2 linked regions of the Homo sapiens genome follow. The protein of the gene in region 1 purifies or fractionates together with the protein of each later gene. This does not show direct contact. Each region holds a gene or a part of one and is shown on either strand. Other genes may lie near its edges.

Evidence for each region. Proteins that work in one complex are often made in the same cells at the same time.
Region 2: the proteins of YTHDF3 (region 1) and STK38L purify together in Homo sapiens (pull-down; one large-scale study listed by IntAct). This does not show direct contact.

What each region holds. Positions count from the first base shown.
Region 1 is NC_000008.11:63,175,121-63,178,620, reverse strand, and holds part of YTHDF3 (YTH domain-containing family protein 3), read right to left. Parts: intron 3,291-3,500; coding exon 3,205-3,290; intron 1-3,204. UniProt on the Homo sapiens protein: Specifically recognizes and binds N6-methyladenosine (m6A)-containing RNAs, and regulates their stability. M6A is a modification present at internal sites of mRNAs and some non-coding RNAs and plays a role in mRNA stability and processing.
Region 2 is NC_000012.12:27,247,286-27,250,785, reverse strand, and holds part of STK38L (serine/threonine-protein kinase 38-like), read right to left. Parts: intron 1-3,500. UniProt on the Homo sapiens protein: Involved in the regulation of structural processes in differentiating and mature neuronal cells.

The DNA of each region.
Region 1 (3,500 bases):
CACAAAGGAGAGGTAGAACAGGCCTTACTGGAATCAAACTTTACAACTTCTCTTCAAACAGGATACAAATATGTTGATTCCAAATATCATGAGTTAAAACAAATCTATTTTACAAATGTTTTGCTCCAACATAACCTGCAATGATGCAGCTGAAAAAATTCATTTGGGTTCACTAAGGTAAATGCCTTTACATCTTTTAAAAAGTAATGGTTTCCCAAACACTTTTTAAAACTATTTTTTTTTTTACAAGTAAAGTCTTATGCACAATTCCAATATATAGAACAGATAAAACGCAAACCACAGTGCTAGTTGCTACACTGGTGGGATTCAGGCACCCTCCGCTGGTTTTCCCTAGGAAGACACTAAGGTGCCTCTATGGAATACCAGAAATCCTCCTGACAAAAATTTTTCCTCCAGTAGAAACCCTTCTATGTCCTTGTGACAAATAATAAAGAATTGTAAAATATCTGTTATCAAGCAAAACATGCAAGAAGATTACTCAGGTAGCAATTCCAAAACTGTCTTTTACAGTCCACTAAAATTCCTTAAAAAAGAGTTTGAATGGCTGAGTGCGGTGTTCCATGCCTGTAATCCCAGCACTTTGGGAGGCCGAGGCAGGTGGATCACTTGACGTCAGGAGTTCAAGACCAGCCTTGCCAATATGGTGAAACCTCACCTCTCCTAAAAATATAAAAATTAGCCAGGCGTGGTAGCATGTGTCTGTAATCCCAGCTACTTGGGAGGCTGAGGCAGGAAAATTTCTTGAACCTGGGCGACAGAGGTTGCAGTGAGCCAAGATTATGCCACTGCACTCCAGCCTAGGCAACAGAGCGAGACTCCGTTTCAAAAAAAAAAAAAAAATAAGAGTTTGAACAAGTCAGGATTTTTTATACTATATCTTCATCTTAAGAACTTCATTTTCAATTATAATTTATAAACTATGAAATCAAGTAGCAAAAAAAACAGTTCAACTGTTTAGCCTCCAAAATTTCTCAAATCTATCTAAACATGGACATCTTTTTGAAGGAATATTTATTACACCTCCTAATATTAAGATTTCTCAGCAAAGTTGGAAAATACTGCCATACTGCCATAAGCGTTAACTGAGATTACTATGTGAGCCAGAATATAGTAAAATCACGCTTATTTTAAAACTTGCACTACATTTCACAACAAATGATCTACTTTCATAATCTTTACGTGGAAAAGTAATTTTGCTGAGATCGTAAAGTTTTTTTCTTTCCCATTTATTTCTTCTCCTCCCATGTATGCTAGGAATGTTGCTCAGTAGATAGGAAGGGGTGGTTAAGGGGAAGTAACCAAGAGGTAGATGAGGTTGAACACAACCACCACTCTCCATAATCCTAAAAATAATCCTGCATCCCACAAATTGGGAACTACTTTTTGTTCAAATTTTCCCTATAACTCTACTGTACAAACTGTTCAGTTCTGTAGTAAGATTTGGTTCCTTGTTCTTTCAGAGTTTCAAAAATCTAGGTTAAAATTTTAGAGTACGTTTTTCATTTTCTCCATATATGCAAGCAGACAAGTCAAACTTCATTCAGTTTTCCAATTTACTCTTCAAATTTACACACACAAACTAACTGGCATCTTTAACGTGCCAATTAAAATCTGAATTTTAGGCTGGGCACGGTGGCTCATGCTTGTAATCCCAGCACTTTGGGAGGCTGAGGCAGGCAGATTACTTGAGGTCAGGAGTTCAAGACCAGCCTGGCCAACATGGTGAAACTCTACCTCTACTAAAAAATACAAAAAGTAGCCAGGCGTGGTGGCATGTGCCTGTAATCCCAGCTATTCAGGAGGTTGAGGCAGAAGAATCACTTGAGCCTGGGAGGCAGAGGTTGGAGTGAGCCAAGATTGCGCCACTGCACTCCAGCCTGGGCAACAAAACAAGACTGTCTCAAAAATTAAAGAAAAAAAAAAAACTGAGTTTCTAATCAAATTAATCATAAAATTATTCCAAAGAACTGAGTTTCTAATCAAATTAATCATAAAATTATTCCAAAGAACTACAGAGGTGGGCTGGGCCCAGTGGCTCACACCTGTAATCCCAGCACTTTGGGAGGCCGAGGCGGGCGGATCATGAGGTCAGGAGATCGAGACCATCCTGGCTAACATGGTGAAACCCTGTCTCTACTAAAAATACAAAAAAATTACCCGGGCATGGTGGCGGGCGCCTGTAGTCCCAGCTACTCCGGGCTGAGGCAGGAGAATGGCGTGAACCCGGGAGGCAGAGCTTGCAGTGAGCTGAGATCGCACCACTGCACTCCAGCCTGGGCGACAGAGCGAGACTCCGTCTCAAAAATAAATAAATAAATAAGAACTACAGAACTAATTTTAAGACCCAAAGTTCTTGAGCATTTTTTGCTTTTTTAAAGCAAAACAAACAGTTTCATTCCACAATGTTCTCTCTAAAAAAACTGGTGAATACTGAAAATGTATTTTTTCATTTATTTCTATCAGTGGCTTATTTTTAGTAACAGACAGAAATGGATGCAGAAATGGCATACAGATACCTAATAGCATTGTTCTTCAATGTTTAAATTGGAATTACGCTTGTACACAAATACTCAAAGCCACCAGTTACCAATTACTTGATTTGATAAAACTGTCCATGTCTACAATACAGAAGTAACTGTGTTTATAAAGCAAGTATGTTTATAAACTCCTTAATTCTATCACCGACATTACCAAGGTATGTTAAAATTTTCAATAGTTATCAATGAATTCAATCTGCAATGTCTTAAAAAAAGAAAACACTACATTTGACCCAAAATTGCAGGCAATTTCAGGTAACTAATCCCTCCTCCAAATACCCAAATTTCTAGCTAATTAAGCCTTTTATAATTAGCTTAAGCTATGAAGATATAGCAGTGACATTAAAAGATTAAGTTCCTTCAATACACACACACAAAAAACCTAACCATAATATATACAAATAATGGTCACCTTCAAATCTTTATTCTATATTTCATAACCTAGTTTCTGGTGCCTATACTTTCTGAAGAAGAACTCTCCTGTGCCATAAATCTGCAACTGCTACTCACTACTCACTTACTATATAGGTACACTAGATGAATGAATCCATGTTATGGTTAATCTCATTAAATAATCTATTTGAAAAATCAACTAATACTAATAAAAGGTTAATTTCCTAAAATCTGAAACTGTCAGAAGACTTACCTGATTTGTCTGGCTACTTAAGTATGGCTCAAAATCATCATCATTTACAGCATCTTTTTGATGAATCGAACCGTTTTGTACTGAAACTAAAAAAATGTTTGTATTAGAAGTGTTGTAGTTATCTTTATGAAACTCGCAGCACAACCTAATGTTTTTAATATTTTTCAAGCCAAAAAAAGTAATCAGAAAAAATAATACTGAGTTATTTTTAAGAACCCTCTTAAGGATAAACTATTTTAGATACAAATATTCATGTGCCACAAAAACTTAAAAGTCTTTTGATACATAAGCCCAAG
Region 2 (3,500 bases), on another chromosome or scaffold:
CTCGTGATCTGCCCACCTCGGCCTCCCAAAGTGCTGGGATTACAGGCGTGAGTCACCGCGCCCGGCCTGAAGGAGCAATTTCTAACTCTACCACTTACTATCTACCTGTGTGTCCCTGGGCAAGTCACTTCACCTCTCTAAGCTCCAATTTCCTCATTTGTAGGTAGAGATAATAACTCACAAGATTGCTATAAGGATTAAATGAGATAATATATATAAAGTACTTAGCACTATGTCTGGTGCATAGTAAGGGATAAGTGGTTACTGGCATTGATAAAATTATCAGACCTGTGCCCTAATGGGTGACATTCAGAAAGAAAAAGGAATCAAGAACATTTAAGAGGGAAAGATGATGTTCAGGGAGCTAAATCTATATATTACCACTGGGAGACAAACTTTGAGAAATATAAATTACACAAAGTATGCTTCATATTAAATGTTCAGATTACTTACTGTGTCTCTTGAATTGGTGAGGAATCAAGAGAAATGCAGTCAAAATCTCCAGATCATAAAAGCAGAATAGCAATAACCGTATTCATAAAAGCAGAATAGCAATAACCGTATTCATAAAAGCAGAATAGCAATGGGAGAACTTGGCCCCCTGAAAAGTAGGCATTAATGTGTGCAGAAGCTTCTCTGTCCCAAACTCAATTTTCTAAACTTTCACAGACAGAATGAAAGCTAGACTCCATAGCAAAGGTACAGCAACCCCGAATGCCTGGGTTAGCTATCATGCCCTCATGTTAGTTTCTGCCATCTTGTTCTTTATTCTGGGTGTATCTGTAGCTGATTTGAGGTGTTAAACATTATTAACTCCACCCTATTCAGGAACTGCAAAAGCAGTAAAAGTGTCCCAGGAATCAGGAAAACGAGGAATAAAATCTCCTGAATCAGCTGGAGAGATAGTAAATAACTCAAAGAGGTAAGAAAACAATGGATGCTATCTGTGCATACGGGATCAGAGATTTATCTATTATAACATGTAGAAATTCTATACCTGTGGAATCAACGAGAATCAGCAAAAGGCAAGGAAAACAGGAAGCCTTCTGTATAAATGGCCAGAGAATCAACAATTTGGGTTACCAACTGATCTGGTGTTAATTAAGGGGAAGGTAAAGAGCTTGTTAAGAATTTAAAAGCTAAGCATAGGCCAGGCGCAGTGGCTCACGCCTGTAATCCCAGCACTTTGGGAGGCCGAGGCGGGCGGATCACCTGAGGTCGGGAGTTCGAGACCAGCCTGACCAACATGGTGAAACCCCATCTCTACTAAAAATACAAAACTTAGCCAGGCATGGTGGTGCGTGCCTGTAATCCCAGATATTTGGGAGGCTGAGGCAAGAGAATCACTTGAACCCAGGAGGCGGGGGTTGCAGTGAACCAAAATCATGCATTGCGCTCCAGCCTTGGCAACAAGAGTGAAACTCTGTCTCAAAAATAAATAAATAAATAAATAAAAGCTAAGCATAGTAGAAGTGTTATCACATACCACAGACAATTGCCAAGGCTCCAGGCCTGTTTGGAATTTATACAATATGACTGTGAATGATCAGGTCACCACATGACCTGTAACTGTTAAGGTCTTCCCTAAGATCTGTGCAGAGCTCATCTAAGAGGCAGGCTACCTGCCTCAGCAGACGTTCAATGCAGATAAGCTGTTCCTGGTGGGAAAAGATGCCCCCAAAACTTGAATCAGCAAGGAGGTAACAGTATGACTGGTTTTCTTTTGATAGACCTACTCACACACCTTTTTACTAAGACAATCTTCCCAAACCACCTGTACTTAGAAGAACTTGGAAACTTTTTATAACAAAGCGAAGTCCACATCTAAGTATCTCCATGAAATGATGGGCTAAAGATCTGCCAATCAGGGCATGGTAAATGGAAATGATATACCATCACTATTAATTTAAGGTATGTTTCAAAAAAAAACTTTTTAAAATTTGTTTTGCCATCTCTGTCTTATTTCAATAATATAAACACACGTGCTTTAAATCCTGGCTTTAGTTCTGCTACTCTTCCCATTAGGTTTTAAGCTCATCAACCATCAACTGTCCTAGTATAGGTGTCTTCTAGAACCTACCCCATTGAGTCAAGTGGAGAATACTTATATTCGTTCACAGAGACTATGACTCTGGAGCTGTACTTAAACTATGAGTACGGTCAACTGCAGGCACTGACAAAGAAGCTGAAGAGTCTGGATCCTGCTGGACAGTTAGGAAAAGGCAGGCAATACCTCTCCCACCGCTCACCTGCTGTATTCCCTGCCTAGGTATACTTTTTTTCTAACCTTTAAATCCAATTGAATTTGTGATTCCAATTCTTAAACAATAACAAATGTGGACTATTCCTGAAACTTCATAAATAAAATCAGGTGGACATTTACAGTACTGAGTAGGCCTATACAAGACACTGTGCACTTCTATAGCACCCTTTATTTCACAAACCCAAAGAACTGTCAAAGTTGCCCCAACATAAAGTATCAGTGATGGAACTTCTCTCATTTTTACATGTACAACACTCTATTCACCCTGTTTCTGCCATTATAAGCATAGCTATTCATGAAAATAAACTAAAAGGGCTGAGACCAACATTCAATCATTAACTAAATTTCAACTTCATAATTCAACCCAAAAACTATCCAGTGCCAAGTGGTTTAAAAAATTATAGAACAGGGCTGGGCACATTGGCTCACACCTGTAATCCCAACATTTGGGAGGCCAAGGCAGGAGGATCACTTGAGCCAAGGAGTTCGAGACCAGGCTGGGCAACATAGTGAAACCCTGTCTCTACAAAAAATTTAAAAATCAGTCGGGCGTGCTTGTGCACACCTGTAGTCCGAGCTACTCAGGAGGCTGAGGTGGGAGGATCGCTTGAGCCTGAGAGGCAGAGGTTGCAATGAGCCATGATTGCACTACTGCACTCCAGCCTAAAAGACAGACTTAAACTCTGTCAAAAAAAAAAAAAAAAAAAATTACAGAACAAAGCCAAACACAGTGGCTCAGGCCTATAGTTCCTGCAACTTAGGAGGCAAGAAGATCATCTGAGCCCAGAAGTTCGAGTCCAGGCTGGGCAAGACAGTGAGGTTCTTTCTTTAAAAAAAATAAATTACAGGACAAAATATACAAAGACGCAAACATTCCATTAAGCAAAAGAGTTAATATGGAATAACTTCTCACTTCTAAGTTCTTATGAGTACTTATAGGTAATAAGTCAAAATTATTAAAAAGTCCCACTCAATAGTTATATTTAATCTGCACCAAGAATAACTTCCAAAAATGGATTAAAATAACATGTCAAAAATAACTCATTTACTTGGGTGTTATTTTGGAACTCTTTCTAGAAAACTGACCCCAAAATTTAGATGTCAGAAGAATGTATTTCCCAAGTCAAGTTTTTGAAACTACAGATCTGAGGAAGACCATCATGAACAGGAGAGAAAATATGGATTGCAGTTAAGCATGCCATATGGGTACAAGCCAGAATGCCTGGGTCAGAATCCT